Homo sapiens: one gene and its partners. The protein of the gene in region 1 purifies or fractionates together with the protein of each later gene. This does not show direct contact. Each region holds a gene or a part of one and is shown on either strand. Other genes may lie near its edges.

Region 1 (8,186 bases):
TGCAATGACTAAATGCTATTCAGTCCTCTTCAAAATATCCAGGACACACTTTTTCAAGCTGTAAAATGAGTAGAAGAGAGGGGAGGGTTGCTACACAATTTCCTCCAAGTGAGTCTCCTACAGCATCACAGCTGGAATGTGGCATCTTGTTGAAATGCAGATTTCAGATTCAGCAATGTGGGGGCGGGGCTCCCCAGTAATGCCAATGCTGCTGGGTTAGGGTTAAAAACAGGAGTCTACAGCATCTAAGTGACCAATATTGCCCATTTCTCCCTTCAGATTTTTTTTTTACTGCAGCCTCAACCATAGGGATCACTACACTATGTGGACAGCACTGGGATCAGAGAGGTGAGCATGGGACACATGGCACCCTGTGCACCTGCTTGAGGCCAGGCCTTTGTTGGCTCCTGGCACGGCCTGGCTGTCCCCCAGGGGAGGAAGGGGATTGTTCTTAGGAAAGCAGGTTGTTATTTCAAGCAAGGCAGCACCAAATCTCCCAGTGCACATCCTTCATAAAAAATCTTGCTTTCAAGATGAATTCTACGGCTCTTTCTGGTCAGGTTTCAAAGAGGTCCTCATCTGGAATGGGGTACTCAAATCTAAGAATGTGGAGACCCTGCCCACGTGCAGCGGGCCTGGTAGAGTCTTCAGAAAGAGTAGTCAGGGCCCCTGGCACCAGGGTACTTGTCAGCCTGGAACTCTGGAACTAGCAGGTGTTCCCCTTGACAGAATTAATTTGTGAACTGATAGGAAAGAAAGAAAGAAAGAGAGAGAGAGAGAGAGAGAGAGAGAGGAGGGAGGGAGGGAGGGAGAGAAGGAGGGAGGGAGGGAGGGAGGGAGGGAGGGAGGGAGGAAGGGAGGAAGGGAGGAAAGGAGGAAAGGACAGAAAGGAGGGAGGGAGGGAAAAACAAAACAAAACAAAAGCTATACAATCATTAACCAGTTTAAATGAACTTTTCCAGTGTCTCAGACAAGAGCATGTCCTTCAAGGACACATTCTCCTTAGGGGGAGAAGTGACATACTTTTTCATTCAATGCCTCTTCTGGGAAGAACAGACATCCTCTTGATCCTCCACAATGGCTGGGGACTTCCCCTACCTCCACCTGCCCTTTTAAACAGCTACTATCACCCATCCATCCATTCATTCCCACTCATTTACCTCCCAGCTCTCCAATCGCAAGATCTCTGTGTTTTTACCCAAATTACCATCTGGTTAGCATGAAGCACAAAACCAGAAAATATCAGGTCTTGCTTACTCCCCACCACGCTCTAAAGATAATCTTCTTTGACAAGAACTTGGCTAGCGATGCCATTTGTCACAATAAGACGCAGCATGTCACACGCTCTGCACAGCCCACGTCAATCCCTGAGGTGCCTTCACCACTGTTGTGGGACAAGCCCAGGCCCTGCTAAAGACCAAAGAAACACTTTGCTTTGGCCTAAAGCCCAGACCCAGGGTCCAGAGCCTCCTGGCCTTAGGGGTGAACTCTCCCAACACCCACTAGTACCATGGGAGCTCCTATGCATCCCACAGCCCCCTGTAAACACGGAATTGCTGTGAATGACAGGAACACCCCCAAAGTGAAGTCAACTGACACTTAACGTTCTTTAGAGAGAATACAAGACATTAAAATACAAGTGCTGAAAATCCAGGAGTCAATTAAAATATAAGTGCTGAAAATCCAATGATTTCCATTCCAAACCCAAGCTCTCAGTACACACACACACACACACACACACACACACACACACACACACACTCAAATTCATGAACTCTTCTCGGAAAAAAATATTTAACAGTTAAGGCTGTAAAAAAATATGACAGAAGTCCACATAATTGGCCAAATAGAAGTTCCTTCACACAAGTCCAATAATCACATCTTCTTTATATACTCACAGTGAGGCTTTTTTTGGAAGGTGGCTTTTCAAATGTGTTTATTAGAATGCACGCTGACTTTGCTATAATTAAAATACAGTTATGCTGACATCCACTGCCCTCATTAGCATGCGTTTCTTCCCCGAGGTTTTGTCAAACCTTCAAAAAATCCTTTTCCAAATAGGTATTCACAGCTGATTGCCCATCAGGCCAAGGCCCCCGGGCTTTCAGAGACCCGTCCATTGTGAAATGCACTCTGGCCCCGACCCCAGCCACCAGGCCACCCAACACTGGCCGCAGCAGTGGGTGAGCACCAGCACCCCCACGTCTTTGCCACTGCCCTGCTGGTCTGAGTACACCCCTGAGGATTGAGGGGCTCTCCCACACATACTGCCCCACCATGAGCAGACCAGGGCAGTGGGCAAGAAATCGAACCTCTCTTCTAGGGTGGGAGGAGGGGTGTCTTCTGCGAGACACGAGTTGCCACTCAGCCCTCAACCGGCTTTAGTCCTGAGTCTGAGCGGTGAGCTTAAGAGTGGCCGGAGCATCCACGCAACATGTCTCCCAACTGGACCAATGAAGAGCTCAGCCACCATTAGAACTGTGAGGCACCCAGCACCCCCCACCGCCTCGCTTCAGCATCTGCAAGGCCTGTACCCTGAGGTCCCTTGCTCTCGGGCCCCTCTGCTCCCTTCCCCAGGACAGCCAGGGTCCTACCTGCTCGTGGGGCCACTTCAGCCTCTCTTCTGGGGTCCTGGTCTTGGGCTTGAAGCCTCTCTGGGGGTCTCCGGGGTGCTTGGCCTCGGGAAGGAGGTTCAGCGACTTGGGCCTCGCCTCGTGCCTGCTGGGGCTGCAGCTGGCCTTGATGGGTGGGCAGGCCTCTACAGAGTCCTCAGGCCCTGGCTCAGGCCCATGCTCGGGGCTGGCCTCACTGGCGCTGGTGATGCTGGTCATGCTCAGACTCATCTTGATCTCTGCCACGATCTGGTCAATGTCCTCCTCCTGGTCCTCCAGGTCCCCATCCCCACGCCTCAGGCGGTAGGGGGAGGCGCCGGTGTTCCCGTTGGCCTCCTCGGGGTAGTAGTCCTGGTAGCCCTCTTTGCTGGCACAGTAGTGACCATCTTCTTCCTGGTCATGGGCCTCAAGGACGGAGGGCTCATCCTCCGGAATGGGCAGTTGGCCGTCTGGGTAGTCCTGGCTGCCTTCAGCCTCGTGGCCGTGGGGGTGCGGGCCCGCCGAGTCCGTCCACTCCTCCACCGCCTCCTGGCACTCATCAGTGTCCACAGGGTGTGCACTGTGGGCCAGGTACTCCTCCCCGTTGCAGTCCATGCCCTCTAGGTAGCTGTCGTCCTCAGGGCAGTAGCGGATGTAGTAGGTGATGCCCTCCTCCTCCTCAGGGAGGCCCTCGTCATAGTCCTCCTCCTCAGAGGTGTTGTTCACGTAGTCAGAGCTGGAGTCCCCATCGGGGCTGTGGTTGTGGCACTCCTGTTCCTCTGGCGCGGGGCTCTCTGGCCGCAGGGCAGCCAGCTCCAGGCCCTCGGGCACATAGCCCTCCAAGGGCAGCTCCATGTCCTCGCTCTCGGGCTCCTGGCTGTGAGGGACAGGACCTGGTCTCACCCTATGGTCCAACATGCCGCTCCCCACGCTCTCAAGCTTCCGGTGGGCCATGGCAGTCGTTCACACAGCCATCATCACCCGGAGGCAGCCACTGTGGGGAGGAACATTGGGAAGGACAGAGTCAAAACCCCACAAAGCCCAGCCATGTGTGGGGCCACTTCACCACAGCACCTCCCACCACGTCCTCCCGCAGCCATGTGAGGGCACATCTGTTCAAACAGTGCGCCATCCCCACCCCCGCTAACTCATCATCAGAACAACACGCATCCACACCAAGGAGAACGAGGGCACACAGAGCTCCGGGAAAAGCAGTCAAGGGAGGCACCGGCAACTCACGAGGACACACGCCTCTCCCCAGGAACCTACCGGCTCATTCCTGACTTCTCACTCAGTTTGGGTAGCCCAGGTGACCAAGACAAATGGTCAGAAGATCAGGTTGTTTGCTCTCACGAAGAAAATGAGCAGCTTTCATTAAGAAGACATAATGAGGACCAATGAGGAGGGACAATAACTCTTCCCAATCTAAATCCATGACCCCTCAAAGACTATCTTGGGTACCTTCCCCTTCAGGCTTATCCCATCCTCTCCCTCCTCTTCCCCCTCAAACTGAACAATGTTCACCGAGGAACTGGATGCGCAGGGACCATCCAGGCTGAGCAATGTGCAGAAAAGCTCTACACAAGTCCCCAGCGTGGCAGGCTGGAGGGCTCAGCAGAGGGGACAGCACTGCTCGGCCATGGGGAGAAGAGGACAAAGGGTGCAGCCGCAGCCTGCAGGTATCGTGGGGTGACAGGGCAGCTGCAGAGACCTGGCAGGCCAAACTGGGAGAGGGCCTGGACCCAGTGCCCAGGACTCTGCACTTTATCCCCCAAACCACACGGCTATGGCCTTAATATGTCCCCCAAAGTTCATGCGTTGGAGACTTAATCCCTAATGCAACAGTGTTGAGAGGTGGGACCTTTGAAAGGTGATTAGGTCATGAGGGCTGTGCTCTCATGAATGGATTAATGTCTTTATCTTGGGAGGAAGTTCTTTATTGTGAGAGTGGGTTTGTTATAAAAGTGAGTTTGGCTCTCTCTTGCTCTCTTTCTCATTCTCCCTCACCTTCTCACCTCTGCCTTGGGATGACATAGCAAGAAGGCCCTTACCAGATGCTGGCACCTTGACCTTGGACTTCCCAGCCTCCAGAACTGTGAGAAACAAATCTCCATTCTTTATAATCAACCAGTCTTAGGTATTCTGTTATAGCAACAGAAAACAGACTAAGACATGTGCACAGTCACTGAGCCATTTTCAACATTTTTTCTTTTAGCCCTGTCTCTCTGGGCCTGGCGTGGGGACAGAGGCTAGAGGCTAGAGGCAGGGAGACCAGTGAAAAGGCTATTCTCTCTTCTGGGGGAAAGCAAGGGGCTAGCATCAGGAAAGTGGCACAGAGGACGTCCAAAAGTTTGCTTAACGTTCTACTTCTTTTTTTTTTTTTTGAGATGGAGTCTCGCTCTGTCGCCCAGGATGGAGTGCAGTGGCACCATCTCAGCTCACTGCAAGTTCCACCTCCTGGGTTCACACCATTCTCCTGCCTCAGCCTCCCGAGTAGCTGGGACTACAGGTGTCCCCCACCATGCCGAGCTAATTTTTCGTATTTTTAGTAGAGACGGGGTTTCACCGTGTTAGCTAGGATGGTCACGATCTCCTGACCTCGTGATCCGCCCACCTCGGCCTCTAAAAGTGCTGGGATTACAGGGGTGAGCCGCCACGCCCAGCAACGTTCTACTTCTTCAGCTAATTGCTTCCCCAAATGTTTGTCATATTCTTTAAACTGTACTCTTACATTACACATGCCTTTTTGCTTGCATGATAGTTCAATTATTTAAAAAAACATATTCCAGTAGTCCAGTTAAGAGCTTGCACACTTGAAAATGCTTAAAATGCTAAATTTTTTATGTCTATTTTACTGCAATTTTTAAAAAGAAAAAAAAGGAGAGCTTAAACTAAAACAGTAGAGAGGACAGTGGAGAAGTGGCTCAGTGAGGACCTTAGGTGGCAGAAGCAAAGGGATCTGGGCTCAGATGGGAGCAGGAAGTGAAGATGAAAGAGGAGCTATCAGTGACCCTCAGCAGTCACTGCCCGGGCTCTCATCTTGCCTTCCTGTACCTCCTCTTCCCCTCTTGTCTCTTTAGTTTAGGCCACAAACTCAAGGCCTTCCATATTGTGTATCCCCCCAGAGCTCCAAACACAGCACCTTGTTTGTAGTGGTGCCCAAAACACATCTTGTTATGAGACTGAGTGTACCAGATGGTCACGGTTACAGCAGTATGAATATTCCCAAAAGAACGAAGAAGGAGATAATTATTTCATCCAGTCCAGACACTCAGAGTGTGGGCACAATTACTGATGGAGCCACATGCTTCCAACGTGTGAATTCACTCCAAGGACACTTGACATCTAAAGAAGCAATGTTTACTCCGCCACCTGCACAGGCTTGTCCATGGCCGTGTTTCAGGAGCATCACTGGTATGCGGAGCAATTCACAGCACTCCCCCTAGAGTGGCCCACAGACAGCAAAGATGTCCCACACCAGGAAAATTGTCACTGAGATGGACCCTGCAGGGCCCGTCACCCCATTCGCAAACCCTGAAACTGGCAGGACAATTCGAAAGAGCTGTTCCCTAGAAGAGAACAAGGGGCCAGCACTCACTAAGACATCTGCAACCCAGATGTGTCAGAGGACACATCAAGAACACTGAGCTGCCTCAAAGACCACATATAACTTGTCACCAGATTTCTTATCTTCACAGAGGACAGCCAGCCACAAGAGAGAGGCTGCAGGAGTGATGTCAGGGACTTAGCAACCACAACTCTCAGACACAATCTCCAGTAACTACATTCCTCAAAACGGTCTCTCAGAAGCATGTGCTGAATGCAGCTGCTAACATGCAACCAGACGTCCATGTCTTGACGTCAGGACGGCAAAGGGCAGATGGTACATCACTGGCACATGAGCACACAGCTCCCATTCCTTGCATAGCGGTGCCATCTCTACAGCATCCCTGTTTCTCGCCAGGCTCTGACATCAAGCTGTGCACGTTGAAGGTATGCACATCCTTGTTAAGAGAACAAACTAAAGTACACAGTACTCTTGCTATCTTAACTTCAAAATCTCTGTCATTCGGGGGGATAAAATCTGTAATATGCACATATAAATATGTATACCAACACTAAATAAAATATTCTCTAGGCCAATATAGGACATAAGGACTAAAATACACATTACAGTAACATGGAACAGTCCAGATCCTATTAAAATGTTATTCAAGTTTTCAAAAATGAAAACACTGAGGACATTGTAGGAGAACTACAATAGAACCAGGAGTTTATTTTCCACTGGTGTTTCCTATTAGCTCTCCAAGCCTTCAGATGATTTCAGAAAAATTTATTCCAGATGTATAACACTACGACAACAATATAATTTGGACTATAATTACTCAATTCATAACTTACCACTGCTTCCTATACTTTTTGCATTTCTTTCTCTTGAACTATTTAGTGGGATTTCATTTTTATTTTGTAAAAATAATTGTTAGAGTCATTTTGTTTACTTAGGAGGTAACTCTTTTGTATCTATAAAATGGCTCTGATCTCACATAGAATGATACCTTTGCTAGGTATAAGATTATTGTATTGCATCCTTTTCACAATAATTTGCTAACACTGTTCCACTATCTTCTAGCTTACAGTCTCGCAGATGTGCATTTTAATACTATTCAGATTCTTTTTACCTTGGTACAAAAATCTATTCCTTCCGTCTGGAAGCTGATACAATTTCCTCTCCACTCTTAGAGTTCAGAAATTCCAGCAAACTATGTCTAGATAAGGGTCTTTTTTAATTTTATGAGGGTCTCATTAATTTTATGTGAGATTCATTTGGTGAGCCCTTTCCGAATCAAGTCCCACATCTTACTTTAGTTACAGGAAGATTCTTGCTATTTCTTTTTTATTTCTCTCCCTAATGGCCTTTTTCTCTTTCTGGAATATCTCTGGAATTTGCCCTCCAAATCACTGAACTTTACACTCATAGCACCCATTTCACATTTTTTTCTGTGTGGTATAAATTAGTTCCTCCATTTGACCTTCCAAAACACTAACTCACTTTTCAGCAAGATATAGCATGTGACCTGTCTTTGCTCTTGCTGGCAACAAAGGGCCCCTGAGACACCAGTGCATGTCTTTCAGCGACTGGTGGATGGCTGGGCAGTGTAAGATACAGTGGGAGAGGATTTTATGGTGAGCTGGAGGCAGTCAGGGTGGTCATCTGGGACTTCACTGTTGAGATGTGAAGAGGTGCCTGTATTTTTTAGGTATGACAGAGATAGGCTGTCCTCAGCCAGATCTGCTTGCTTCCAGGGAAAATGTCCACCCTTCCTAGAGGCACAGGAATAAGGTGCTCCCCTGAAACTCCCTGAGTCTGTGTGCTGCACCTGTCCCTAGCTCCAGAAGTTCCAGACTTTTCATGGGAGGGGTCAAACCTCTTCCCTTGGAGCAAGCAAATCCAGTCACTGTCTAGAATCCTTTATTTTTGACACTGAAATATTTAACCCATCAGAAAGTGTAAACACACAAGGTAGGGAGCAGCTTCATGTTCTCCACGATGGTTACCCCAGTGATTTTCAAGTTTTGTTACCCATTGAAAACCCT
Region 2 (6,597 bases), on another chromosome or scaffold:
CACCGCTTGTTTTGGACTCAACAGTGGGGGTGGTTCTGGATTTTGTGTTTTGGTTTCTGCTTAACCCCATCACCTGTGGTCCCTGAGCATGGTTGACCATCCCCAGCTTCCGGCACCCCCGCCCGGGCCACCCGGCTCCCACTCACCCTCCACACTTGCTGTTGGATGTTTTTGCTGAACCCTTGACTTCCACGCCCGCCCATCCTCATCGCTTTCTTCTTGGAGTTTGATTGCTGTGTGTCTGCGGCAGGACACCATGGAATTGCTTAGCTTGTGGGAGGAGGAGTGTCTTGAGAGAAAGAGATTCAGTGTGGATTTCATGATATTTCACTCATCCTCCGGCCATCTCTGTATTACTGTTCACATCTCTACCTCAGCTTGCAGATCTTTTTCTGTTACCTTCTTTTTCCTTGTTTGGTTTGTAGTAGGCAGCTGTAGTGAAATGCCTAGGCAGCCCATTCTCCCAGAGGACAAGGTTTCTGAGCCCCACCTGTCCCTGTCACCACCTCCCCCGAGACCTCAGGACCCACATGGGCGGAGCACATGCCCTCAGCCCAGTTGAGCAGTCCCAGGAGAGCTGAGGGCCCTGTTTTCAGCAGGAGCAGGGCTCCTCCTCCAGGCACATCAGCCCCTCTGCACTCGCCACACACAGCGCACAGACACCCCAACCTAGGGGTTCCAATTTGAAATCTCAGGCTGCTGCCAGGGCCAAAGTGCTTGTCAGAATGAGACCAGAAGTCCTACTTCTGCCGTGGTGGTCAGAGAGATGGGCCCCTCCCCTGCCCTCACTCCCCACTTTGGTCAAGGCCAGTAACCCCCAGCTGCCCTGCACTGTAGTGAGAGGAGGCGGGGCCCAGTCCAGCCTCACTGAGCCCCACCCTCTGGCCAGTGAGTTGAACTAAAGCTTAGCAGTCAGTGGGTGAATTTTTACATTTGAAAAAAAAAAATCATTCTGACCTAAGTGCTTGAAGATCTTTTAATTTTGATTTCTATGAATTTCCTTTTTAGGGGTCCATCATTAGCAGTCCTCACATGCGCCGGAGAGCTACATCAACACGAGAGTGTCCATCTCGCCCACACCAGACTATGCCCAACTCATCTTCCCTCCTGGGCTCCTTATTCGGGAGCAAGAGAGGGAAGCCCCCTCCCCAGGCCCACCTGCCCTCAGCCCCAGCCCTGCCACCCCCCCACCCACCGGTGGTCCTGCCTCACTTGCAGCACTCTGTGGCTGGCCACCACCTGGGGCCCCCAGAGGGGCTGCCGCAGGCCGCCATGCACGGGCATCACACCCAGTACTGCCACATGCAGAACCCTCCCCCGTACCACCATCACCACCACCACCACCCACCCCAGCACATCCAGCACGCACACCAGTACCACCACGGCCCCCATGGGGGCCACCCAGCCTACGGGGCCCATGCCCACGGCCACCCGCCGCTGCCCTCGGCCCACGTGGGGCACACAGTGCACCACCATGGGCAGCCCCCTGCCCCGCCGCCCCCCACCAGCAGCAAGGCCAAACCCAGCGGCATCAGCACAATTGTGTAGACAGCCTGGGTAGGGGTCCCAGGCTCCCTGAAACACCTGCACACCACACAGGGCACGCCCGGGGGTCGCCAGCCGCACACCAAACCCGGGGCACTTCTGTTGCCATCTCTCCCCTCTGCCCCTCACGGCCCAACCGGAGCCCCAGGAGCCCACAGGGCTGGTGTTGTGTGGAACAAAGGCCCAGATTTCATTTCTTGTTGGCACCCTGGGCTCTGCTCACCTCAGTCTGAGGGATGGGTGGGCCTCAGACACCATCAGCCTTGAAACGGTGAGCCAGCCAAGTAGTGTTGAACTGCCTCCCCCACTCCAGCTCTCAGCTCCCTGTGCCCTAATGTACATGCATATGAAAACCCAACCTAGAAAACGAAGAAATGAGATACAAAAACAGACAAAACAAACCCCAAAACTTGCTGCATTATTGCTCTTTTATTGACAATGGGCAAAAAAATAAGTAGACCTGATATGGTTGATGAAAATACGTAAGTAAACTTTATATAAATATATAAATATATAAATATATATATATATATACTGTATAGGTAGTACTTGTGTGTGAAAGGCAGGCGTTTCAGTCCACATTAGCAATACCCACCTTACAAGGAGCTCCACTTACCTAATAGGAAGACAGTACCTTAGCTGGGTGTGTGAGACAATAGACCAAACCCTAAATGCTAGGAACAAATTCAGATACTTCATATTTTCATACAAAGAAGTCCCTCTAGGACTGGCTAAAATCTTTACACAATCATTACTAACTGTGCCAAGTAACATAGCATCTAACTGTTTAAAAAGTCCAGTATTGCTTTGTATAAATCCTTATTTTATTAACAGAATACTATCATAAATAGTATTATAATGCTGTTATTTCAGGTAAGCAAATAGCTAAACTGCAGTACACTCTACAGTAGCAACTCAGGACAGCTGGTTACAAGCTGGTTGTCTTAGGACATTGGTTACACGGATTCTTAGACACTTTAATGGCTGCGATAACTGTGACTCTCCATGATCCATGTTTCTTTTATGCGCATATGATTTGACGCACACTCATTCAGAGTCCTCCGAGAGGGGCACCCATACACGGCAGAAGTGTTCATCTCCAACATGAAAGTGACCAGCTCTCATCCTCGTCTCCCCAACACCATAACGTCCTCATCCCGCCTCCAACCCACACCAGGCCGAAGCCCTCAGAGAGTGTTTTCATCAGGAACCACTCTCGAACCTGAAGGTTGACTTTAGCGTTTAGCAACCCAGGGCGGTGTGTGTGTTTCCCGTTTTGTTTTCTGAGTGGTAGCAGTGATCACCGTAATTCCATGTAGCCATGTGCTAGCAGAACCCCTGTGTCCTCACCGTGGCCCGTGTGACCCCAGCCGACGAGTGCCCGGCGGAGCCCCCGCTGCCTTCCCATGGTCCAGTGAGCTGCCAGGGCATCACATGACTCTCAGCTGTGCTCTTGTCGCTTCTGTGTTGTGGTGACACCATGCGCTCCCCAGGGCCAGACCTGCACGCGGCAGGTCTGTGCCCGAGTCACCCACGGGCCATACTTTGTAGTTTCAGCCTTTCGAGCCACTGCAGCCGTCAGTGCTGTGCTCCTAAGCCATGGGACCCGAGGACTGCCCCCCGGCGCCTGCCCAGGCGGAGGCCCTTTCAGAAAGGGCGAAGCTCACGCCTGACTCTGCGGGCCGCGGGGCCGCGTTCCCAGTGGACAGCGTGGTGAGCCGTGGCCGGACGGCAGGAGGAGAGGGGAGCCCCCTCTGGCTGTGTGTCACCTTGGCTGGCTGGCTGGCCAGGGTTTTGCCGATTTCCCTCCTCACATCCCTCCCACCCTCGGTCATATCATTGAGATCACCGTACCAGCAAATCTGCAAACCAAGCACTTTGTTAATCTCCAGAGAGAGCAAATACAGCAATCTAGAGTTTAGCCTTTTTAAAAATGTGACTTTAACCCGCCCACCTGTGTCCTCCCATTGGCGTGGCATTTCTTTGGTGTCTGCTCAGAAAGAAACAGCATGGGACCGTGTGATTGGGTCCAGGCTGGGCTGTCAGGGAAGCGCCCTGGTGTCTCCGACTCATCAATTCTCGGGTCTTTTTTAAAAGCCAGGCTCCCCAAAGCACTCTGTCTCGCAATTTTGAGGAGGCTGTTCCGACCTGGAAGCGTTAAACTGCTGCATGTCATCTGGCGTCAGCTGTGAGGCTGCGCTCTGCGTGTTGTGCGTTTGCAAAATGTATTGGCGTGACTGTAAACACATCGTTGAAGTAAAGCGATTACATATTGAGTATGTCAGCTTTTCTCACCCTCTTCTGTGCTGGGAGGAGAGTCTAACTGTAACCTTTAGGTTGTTCCAGAAAAGATTCAGGCCGTTTGGCACAGAATTGCTCTTTCTGAAGGGTAGCAGTAATGAATAGGAACAGACAGAAAACCCCAGGAGGGGCTTTCAGGAAACTCTCCCTCTCCATCGCCATCCTGCAAGCTCCACAGCCTCGGGCTGCCAGCCTGTGGCACTGTCCTCGGTGTGTCCTGGAGCTGTGCTGGGCAGCAGGGCCTCGCGTAAGGAACTGCTGGAACCCACTGAGCCCTTCCCGGGGTTTCCCGCCGCACTCAGTGTGTTCCTTCAGGCTAGTGAGGTTTCATTCTGTTTTATTTGCAAGCTTATCAAAAGTTTGTGGAAGATACATTGTTGGGTTCCAGAGGCTGGAGTCATGCTGCCCACATCTTGTTTGGGAAAGCAAAAGCTCCCAGTGAGCTGGTGTCCCCGTGTGTCTTTCATGGGACTGTCCCCTTTAGAGATCCCACCTGTCAGAGCCACAGCTTCGGGGTCCTGTCATCACATCCCCTGGGAGGGGAGGCAGGAGGAGGCCGAGGGCCCCAGGATGTCTGCCTGGTCCCTTCTCACTGTGAGGACGCCCTTGGCACACCTTTCTCAAGTCACACAAATTACTGCAGTTACATACAGAATTGCTGACAGGAGCAGGAGACGCTGAGGGAAACAGCTGGCAATGTGACAAAAGTCTTTTCTGGGACAACAATCAAATCATGTATTTGTATTTTTTTAAGTTTACCAATGAATTGTACAACAATGTAAAAATAAAGTTCATCCTAATATGCTGTGCACATCTTGCTTAAAAATGTCTTCAGCACCCAGTGCAGTGATCTTTCCCTCACACACTGCATGCAGCAGGAGCCTCTTGTTTTTCTTAATGAGCTGAAAAGACAGCAGATGTTCACAGCTGATGCTGGGTGTTGACTCAGCGCCACGGGAAGCTCTGTGCCCGCAGGTAAGCACGCACAGTCTTACAGTTCTCCTTGTAAAATATCATCACCCTTCCTGCCTGAGAAACGAGTACATTTGTATTTTATGTAACAACAATAGTCAAGGCAGCATTGCAACACTGAGCAGGGTGAGGTGGGGGTGCTGAGCACAGGACAAGAGGGAGGAGGCCTGCCCTCCATTCAGATGCATCTGCATCGCCCTTCTGTGTGCAGTCACATCGAGACTGCACACAGCATGCATCTCCTCTTGGAAAATATCTTTTGCCTCCGAGTTGTTTTAAGCAATTAGAATCAGGTCCTGAATCCCCAGACTGTTCAGAGACTTCAAGGGACACCTCCCTCACAAGAAGCCTGGCACCCCCACTGTGTACCTTTGAGAGGAAAGGAGTGCGTTTGTTTTCATCTGCATTCTGTTTGTCAGTGGCAACAGACTCTATCAATGTAAAACCATGGTTGTGATCATGTGGGGAAATCAAATAAATCCTTTGAAACTCTCGGATTCTCACTTTTTCTGAAAAGTCCAGAAGTTGCCCTGTTGGCCAGACCCAGATCTCCAGCTGATGAGTTTCCCCATTACTTGTTGTGACTCTGGGCACTCACTTTCCTTGAAGACATTGGACTGACTGAGGACACTGATACAAAATTTAAAATAAAGGGACACATCACAACCAATAGAAGGTTTCAAAGGTATTTATAATTTCTAGCAACTTTCAACAAGTGATGGTCCTTTCATGGAGTTAGAGGGGATGAATTCTATTAAGCGTTGAGGTACACTGATTATGACTTAGGGAAAAAAATACCCAGTGGCCCAGTCCCCAGTAAAGATGGATGATGACAGGAGTTCAGAGCAGCCTGCGTTTCCATGTTGGCTCATATCATGTACAAAAGCCAAGATGGTAAAGTCATTCTCCTGGAAGGAAGGGGCCTGTGAGGATGTAATTGGCTTCTGCGATTTCTCCTTTCCTGGCCAAACATAATTCCTGAGAACACCACTTTAAACTTTCAGTGCATGGGATAAAAGGAACTGGCAGATCTAACTAGTGGAAAACCAAACAAAAAAAAGTTAATTTTGGTGACCAAAATGAACTCTGGCCCTCCCTCCGTACAGCACATTCTGATTGAAAGATGTTCTCACAGGGGCCCCCTCTTCCAGTCTCATTCATAGCCACTACTGGCTCATCTAGACTGAAACCAGGAAACCAGCCATTTCAGTGCACACACACAAGTGCCTTGCACAATGCCTGTTTCTGCAACTGGGCGTCCATCCCTTTTACAGACTATTCAGGGGCCCTTCAAGAGAAGCTGGGTACAAAAATTCCCTGAAATACCCGGTTCTGCCTCAGGGTTTGATTTTTACTACGCAGATCTACAGCCCAGGAGCTGCTGGAGGTAGGTGAGCTAGGCCAGGGCTCCGAGGCGGTGATCTTCTGGGGATTGTGTTTGTCTCCCCCTGCCCTGAGATTGTGAGCTGCATGATCCGCCTGTGTGTGTCCAGTGACAGCCCCAGGACTGGGCTTGTCGGCATGCATCTATCTGAAAATTAATGGATGGCTGGAAGAGGCAGGGGTTCAGGTCACACCACCAGCAGCAGCTGGTGTTTGAGAATACCGATCACTGACATAATTAAAAAACGTATGGAAACCGGTTTGCTCATCCCCCCCACTTCCCTTAACACTTAAGTCTGGCTGGGAGACACCTGACTCAGACCTTGAGATCATGGTTCTTCCTCCTCCCTGGCTGCATGTGACTTCTGTGCCACCGAATCCCAGGAACATGTTTAG
Region 3 (7,710 bases), on another chromosome or scaffold:
ATGGAAAGGACCTTTAGTGACCACGTGCCTTGCCTCAATTTTCTGAGATGGATTTGATTTCAAACATTCTGTCCTCATGTGTACTTGCTCGGGCCACAGGTCCTGAATTTGAGAGTCTATCAGTGGGGGTGTTGGTCCATTTGAGCAGGTCCAGGTGGGTCAGAGGTTTTCTGCAGAGGAATTGAAAGCGCCACACCTCCTTCTTTGCTCCTTAGCTGTGTGGTGGATGAGATGGACTTCTCCTCCATGGATCTGGATGATGCGCTCCGGAAGTTCCAGTCCCATATCCGGGTTCAGGGTGAGGCCCAGAAAGTGGAGCGACTCATCGAAGCCTTCAGGTGTGCCTACCTCCCACTCGCGAAGCTGCCCCTCCCTCCTGTGGGCATCGACGTAGTATGTGTTTATAAGTCACTTCTCTGAGCCTCATACTTTCTTCACCATAAAACAGAGATGATAAATCCTATCTTGCAAGGCAATTGTGAGGATCAGAGGTAGTGCATATAAAGTATCTAGCTCAGCCTCTGGGACATGGGCATTCGATAAGTGACAACAACATCAGCAATAACAGCTAACATTCACGGAGCACTTACTAGGTATCAGGTGCAGAGCTGAGCACTTTACATGATTATTTCACCGAATAATCACAACCACCCCATAAAGTAGGCACTTCTGTTATTATTCCCATTTTACAGATGAGAAATCAGAAGTTTAGAGAGGTTAAGTAACTTGCCCAGGCTCATACAGTGAATAAGTGGTAGAAACAGGATTTGAACTCGTATGTGTCTGAGTCCATGATCCATCCATGCCCTTAACCATTTTACTGTACTATAAATGCTTTGGAGATCAGATAGACTGGGGTCTAAATCCTGGCTCTGCCACTTTAGGGTATTTAGAAGAGAAACAGGAGTTGCTGAGAACTTGTTTCCCACAATGGGGGAAGGATTTGCTTTGCAGTCAGAAATAACTGGGTTTTCATCCTGGCTTCACCATTTACCAGCTCTATTACCTTGGGCAAGTTACCTCGCCACTTTGAGTCTTAGTCACTTCATCTGTAAAATGGGACTGCCAATAGCTACCTTGCAGGATTATGATAGGATTACGTGAAACAACGTACATAAATCCCCTGGAAGAGCTCTGTAAAAGGTAGCGATTGTGATTTTTACATGCTGGTCTAGGGGAAGCTCTGAAGAGGACAGACCCAGAGATCAAGAAAGTATTTCTTGCAGGAAAGGGTTGCTGGTGCCAGACTGGGTGGATGGTGGGTAGGCAGAGATGGCTGGTTCCTGAGTCTGGCTTTGACCCCTCCTGCCCTGCAGCCAGCGGTACTGTGTCTGTAACCCAGCCCTCGTGCGCCAGTTCCGGAACCCAGACACCATCTTCATCCTTGCTTTTGCCATCATCCTCCTCAATACCGACATGTACAGTCCCAGCGTCAAAGCTGAACGAAAGATGAAACTAGATGACTTCATCAAGAACCTGAGAGGTGACTTCCCTGTCAGCTTTTCCTGCCCTTCACCTGGAAAGGGAAAGTGGGGGGTAAGGGGAAGGATGCAGGAGATCCCATCTGTTCCTTGGAAATTAATTTGTGATGCTGTCACTTTCTGCCCTAGCTGGATGTTCCCAGGATATTCACTTATTAATTCACTCAAATCGTCATTTGCCCATTGTACTGAGCTTCTACTGTGTACCAGGTTTCTAGGTCCTGGGGTTCAAGCAGTGAACATGATAGATTAAAGTCCTGACTCTTACAAGGCTTTACTCTGATTCATTCATTCATTCATTCAGTAATTCACTTGTCCTTTCCTCGCTCCTTCTTTCCCTCTCTTATTTATGCCCATGAGGACTCATTTAATTATTTTAGGTACCTTTTCCTCTATTCATGCATTCATTTATCACTCGACCAAACAACCAGCCAGCCAGTCAACACTTAGCGCTTAGTGTGTGCCAAGCCCCATGATGGGTGCCAAGGACAATGGAGGGGAATCTGCCATACTCCCTGTTCTGAGAGAGCTCCCTGTGTGTGGGAGAGGCTGACTTGTAGCACCCAGATAACTAACATAAGACAGAAAGTGAACAGTGACATCAGAGAGGCCAAAAGTGCAGTCAGAGCTCAAAGGAGGGAGAGCCCACCTCTAGCTAGCTTCCTGGAGGAGGTAGTATTTTTATTTTAAGGTGGGTCTTGAAGGCATGGAGAAGGTGACACAATAGAGATAGAGGAGGGCTTACCTAGCAATGAGAATACCAAAGGCGCAGAGGCAGGAACATTTATTTTCTTTAGGGAACAATTGAGGGCTGGGTACGTTGGCTCACACCTGTAATCCCAGCACTTTGTGAGGCTGAGGCAGGTGGATCCCATGAGGCCAGGAGTTCCAGACCAGCCTGGCCAACATGGGGAAACCCCATCTCTACTAAAAATACAAAAATTAGCAGGCATGGTGGTGCACACCTGTAATCCCAGCCACTCAGGAGGCTGAGGCAGGAGAATTACTTGAACCTGGGAGGTAGAGGTTGCAGTGAGCTAAGATCGCACCACTGCACTCCAGCCTGAGTGACAGAGCAAGACTCTGTCTTGAAAAAAAAAAAAAAAAAAAAAGAACAATTGAGATGAGGTCATTGATGGGTTGGGAAGGTCCCAATATATGAGGTTCCAATATATGGAACCAATATATGAGGGCCTTGAATGCCAGATGAAAGGTGTCACCTTGCTCTTTTTGCTTATTCTACTGATGTCGAGCCCTGCCTATCACCAAAGAGCAGCTACTAAAAATGGTACAGATGTTAAGATTATTTAAGCAGAAAAGAAAGAGGGAAATAGAGTCAAAGAAAAAAAGCAAACTGAACACAAGACAAATTGGCTGCCCATCAGGTTTGTGCCGCTGTGGCTGCTCTGGTAAGAAAGTCAGTGCGATGTAGTATGTTCCTTTAGCACCTGTCCAAGGAGGAGATGTGACATTTCCAAGGAAGAAAACATTTTTTTTGTTTTCTGTTTTTTTATTTTATTTGTTTTTTTTTTTTTTATTTTTAGAGACAGGGTCTCACTCTCTCACCCAGGCTGGATTGCAGTGGTGCTAGCAGAGCTCACTGCAGCCTTGAACTCCTGGGCTCAAGCGATCCTCCCACCTCAGCCTCCTAAGTAGCTGGGACTATAGGCGCGTGCCACCATGCCCAACTAATTTCTAAATTTTTTGTAGAGACAGGGTCTTGCTAGGTTGCCCAGGCTGGTCTCAAACTCCTTGCCTCAACTCGGCCTCCCAAAGTGCTGGGATTACAGGTGTGAGCCTCCACGTCCTGCCCAGAAAACATTTTCTCTAGTAGAGGATTTAGAGAGAAGAGTGAGTGGGTTTCACTCAGCAATCAGAAGTGGAGAAGGATGGTGAACATGGGAGGAGGGAGTTAGATCAGAGGCCATTTGGAGCTGTCTCCTAGAATTTTGCCATCATTCATTCATCCATTCTTTTTCCCTCTCTCTCTCAATATATGTGTGTGTGTGTGTGGGTGTGTGTGTGTGTATGTGTAACTTCCCCCTCTAATTATTAAATAAATAAGCAAATAAATGAAGGTAATACATACTTTATTTCAGAAATGTTGGAAGATTCAGAAAATTAGAAAATTTCTTTTTATCACCCAAAATGTGCCCCCTAGAGGCAATCATAGTTAATGTTTTGGTGCGTTCTAATCTTTTCCCCCATGCATATGTAACTTTTTATATAGTTCAGATCATACCACACATGCAATTTATCTTACTCTTTTCCCATAATTTGCTACTGTAATTTTCTCATGCTATTGAAATGTTTTTGTAAATGTCAAGTTTTTAATAGCTGTGCATTATCTTATTAAATGGATATACTATCCTCTATTGTTAAAATTTAGGTTGTTTCAAATTGTCCCCATAAGTAACACTTAGTGAGTTTTTTTTTTTTTTTTTTGAGACAGGGTCTTGCTCTGTTGCCTAGGCTGGAGTGCAGTGGTGCAATCATGGTTCACTGCAACCTCCTCCTCCCAGGCTCAAGCTATTATCCCACTTCAGCCTCCCAAGTAGCTGGGGCCACAGGTGTGTGCCACCACACCCAGCTAATTTTTGTATTTTTTGTAGAGATGGGATTTTGCCATGTTGCCCAGGTTGGCTCTCGAATTCCTGGGCTCGAGCGATCCACCTGCCTCAGCCTCCCAAAGTGCTGGGATTATACCACGCCTGCCCTAGCATTCTTTTTTTTCTTTTTCTTTTTTTTTTTTTTGAGACAGAGTCTCAATCTTGTTGCTCAGGCTGGAGTGCAGTGGCGCGATCTTGGCTCACTACAGCCTCTGCCTCCCGGGTTCAAGCAATTCTGCCTCAGCCTCCCGAGTACCTGGGACTACAGGCACATGGTGCCATGCCTGGCTAATTTTTTGTATTTTTAGTACAGATGAGGTTTCACCATGTTGGCCAGGATGGTCTTGATCTCCTGACCTCGTGATCCACCTGCCTCGGCCTCCCAAAGTGCTGGGAGTACAGGCGTGAGCCACCATGCCCCGCCTGCACTAGCATTCTTGCACATACCTCTTGCACATATTTCTGAGTAGTTCCTTAGGGTAGATTCCTAGAAGAGAATCACTGGGTACAAACATTTAGGTTCTTGCCAAATTACCTTCCAAAAGAGTTATGTTACCATACATGCCCACTTCCCTGCACTCTTCCTAGCACTGGATTTCATTTTAAATTATTTTTGCTAATTAGGAAGGCAAACAATAGTATCTGATTGTTTTAATTACAGTGTATTCTGAGTTGTTGAGAAAAAATTCCCCACTCTGGGGAAGATAGCAACTGGCTGTTGTACTGAAGGACACCCTCCCTGCCCCAATCCTGGCTAAGGGGCCGAGGGTACCCATTGACCCTCAGTCCTGACTATCGTGGCCCGTGCCTGGGTGTGGGGGTGGTGGAGCACCCCTACCACCCAGTGCCCATAATTATGTGACATATCCCTGTGTTACTCCCTCCCCCAGGGGTTGACAATGGTGAAGACATCCCCCGAGACCTCCTGGTGGGCATCTACCAGCGCATCCAGGGGCGTGAACTGCGGACCAACGATGACCATGTGTCCCAGGTGCAGGCTGTGGAGCGCATGATTGTTGGAAAGAAACCAGTAAGTGCCTTGGGAGGCTGCAGAGGGGCCAGGGTTCAGGTCTGCCTCTGCCACTAAGTGGTAAGTCACTGCACCTCCCTGAGCCCCAGGTGCCCTTTACCTGCAATACAGAGTGGGTGATAATGCATTCCTCAGAAGGCTGTGGTGCAGAGTGAATGCATCGAGCACATTCCAAGGCCCATAGTGGGTACTATATAAATATTAGCATCCTTTTCACCTCCGGCTTTGCCTGTCCATCCTAAGTGAAGAGCCAAGCTAATGGTTAGCAGAAAACCAAAGTAAGAACACACTTTAGGCCAGGTACAATGGCTTGTGCCTGTAATCCCAGCACTTTGGGAGGCCGAGGTGGGTGGATCACCTCAGGTCAGGAGTTCCAGACCAGCCTGGCTATCATGGCAAAACCCTGTCTCTACTAAAAATACAAAAATTAGCTGCGGGCGTGATGGTGCATGCCTGGAGTTCCAGCTACTCAGGAGGCTGAGGCAGGAGAATTGCTTGAACCCGGGAGGCGGAGGTTGCAGTGAGCTGAGATCGTGCCAACGCACTCCAGCCTGGGGCCACAGAGCAAGACTCCGTCTCAAAAAAAGAAAAAAAAAAAGAAAACGCTTTAGCCAACAAACATTTGTGGATGCCTTTCCACTGAGCCCAGCATTTGCTGGGCACCAGAGTTGGTGCTGGGCATTCATAGATATGAATCAGACGTGTTCTCTATCCTTGGGGGCACTCACAGACCAGTCGGGGTGTGAAACAAAGACACATATAATACTTCTGCTTTATGGTCCAGTTTAGGAGAGGAGAAAGGAGAGAGAGACCATTTTCAGCCTGGAGAAATCAGGGAAGGCTTCTTGGAAGAGATCATTTTGGGATTGAATTTTTTTTTTTTTTTTTTTTTTTTTTTGACATGGAGTTTCACTCTGTCACTCAGGCTGGAGTGGAGTGGCATGATCTCGGCTCATTGCAACCTCTACCTCCTGGGTTCAAACGATTCTCCTGCCTCAGCCTCCTGAGTACCTGGGATTGCAGGCGCCCACCACCACACCCAGCTAATTTTTGTGTTTTTAGTAGAGACGGGGTTTCACCATGTTGGCCAGGCTGATCTCGAACTCCTGACCTCAAGTGATCCGCTCGCCTCGGCCTCCCAAAGTGCTGGGATTACAGGCGTGAGCCACTGCGCCCGGCCGGGATGGAAATTTGAAAGGGAGTTGAAATATGACCATGCAGAGCTGGGCAAGAAAGACATTCCAGACAGAAGGGCAAAGGCAAGGTAGCAGATAAGTTTAGGTCTTAGTTGCTGATACCCCTTGTGTCAGAGTGACACACATGTATGAGTGGTAAACTTCTTGCGGTTGAAAGTTAAGGTGCCAGGAGGCCTGAAGCTGATGGGCTGGCCTTGCTGACACCTGTTTCTTCATGCCTGTCTAGGTCCTGTCTCTCCCTCACCGTCGACTGGTTTGCTGCTGCCAGCTCTACGAGGTGCCAGATCCAAACCGCCCCCAGAGGCTAGGGTTGCATCAGCGGGAGGTCTTCCTCTTCAATGATCTCCTTGTGGTATGAGCACTGTGGGGGAGGAGATGGGAGGGAGAGAGTGAGCTTGACACCTAAGTCTGGTGTGAACCATATTGATGTAGGTGTGTGGTGTGTGGAGTGTGGCGGGCGAGGTGTTCTGCCATGCCATCTGCATGGTCTCAGGCAAGGCCCAGGCCTTCTCTGCCCCTCCTTTTCCTCACAGATGCATTTGGAGGTAGTAACAGACACACAGGGACAGAAAATATGAGGACCAAAGGAGATGACAGACTTACAACCTGGGAAGTGGTAGGAAATATCCCTGTCCACCTCAATAGCCCATAGGGTTGTGTGAAGAGGGGTGAACCTGCGACCCCCCAGGTCAGTCTGGAAATCTTCAGTAATCAAGATGCTTGAAGTGGGCTCGGCACTGTGGCTCACACCTATAGTCCCAGAACTTTGGGAGGCCAGGGCAGTTTGAATCACTTGAGCCCAGGAGTTTTGAGACCAGCTTGGGCAACATGTCGAAACCCTGTCTCCACAAAAAATACAAAAATTAGCCGGGCATGGTGGTGTGCACCTGTAGTCCCAGCTACTTGGGAGGCTGAGTCGGGAGGATCACTTGAGCCCAGGAGGCAGAGGTTGCAGTGTGCTGTGATCGCACCACTGCATTCCAACCTGGGCAACAGAGCCAGACCCTGCCTCAAAAATAAATAAATAAATAATAAAAACAAAATTTAAAAAAGATGCTTGGGCCAGGCACGGTGGCTCATGCCTGTAATCCCAGCACTTTGGGAGGCCGAGGTGGGTGGATCACCTGAGGTCAGGAGTTCAAGACCAGCCTGGCCAACATGGAGAAACCTCGTCTCTACTAAAAATATAAGAAATTAGCTGGGCGCAGTGGCGCATGCCTGTAGTCCCAGCTACTGGGGAGGCCAAGGCAGGAGAATCGCTTGAACCCAGGAGGCGGAGGTTGCAGTGAGCTGAGATCGCTCCATTGCACTCCAGCCTGGGCGACAAGTGAAACTCTGTCTCAAAAAAAAAAAAAAAAAAAGATGCTTGAAGTGATTCTTCAAACTGAGCTCAT

The links. Proteins that work in one complex are often made in the same cells at the same time.
Region 2: the proteins of APBA2 (region 1) and IQSEC1 purify together in Homo sapiens (co-immunoprecipitation; 3 studies listed by BioGRID and IntAct, with this or other methods). This does not show direct contact.
Region 3: the proteins of APBA2 (region 1) and IQSEC2 purify together in Homo sapiens (co-immunoprecipitation; 3 studies listed by BioGRID and IntAct, with this or other methods). This does not show direct contact.

Annotation. Positions count from the first base shown.
Region 1 is NC_000015.10:29,049,244-29,057,429, reverse strand, and holds part of APBA2 (amyloid-beta A4 precursor protein-binding family A member 2), read right to left. Parts: intron 3,586-8,186; 5' UTR 3,546-3,585; coding exon 2,595-3,545; intron 1-2,594. UniProt on the Homo sapiens protein: Putative function in synaptic vesicle exocytosis by binding to STXBP1, an essential component of the synaptic vesicle exocytotic machinery. May modulate processing of the amyloid-beta precursor protein (APP) and hence formation of APP-beta.
Region 2 is NC_000003.12:12,895,934-12,902,530, reverse strand, and holds the end of IQSEC1 (IQ motif and SEC7 domain-containing protein 1), read left to right. Parts: intron 1-1,008; coding exon 1,009-1,548; 3' UTR 1,549-3,096; coding exon of another isoform or gene 3,097-3,141; 3' UTR 3,142-5,488; downstream 5,489-6,597. UniProt on the Homo sapiens protein: Guanine nucleotide exchange factor for ARF1 and ARF6. Guanine nucleotide exchange factor activity is enhanced by lipid binding. Accelerates GTP binding by ARFs of all three classes.
Region 3 is NC_000023.11:53,240,742-53,248,451, reverse strand, and holds part of IQSEC2 (IQ motif and SEC7 domain-containing protein 2), read left to right. Parts: intron 1-215; coding exon 216-338; intron 339-1,316; coding exon 1,317-1,483; intron 1,484-4,980; coding exon 4,981-5,120; intron 5,121-6,542; coding exon 6,543-6,668; intron 6,669-7,710. UniProt on the Homo sapiens protein: Is a guanine nucleotide exchange factor for the ARF GTP-binding proteins.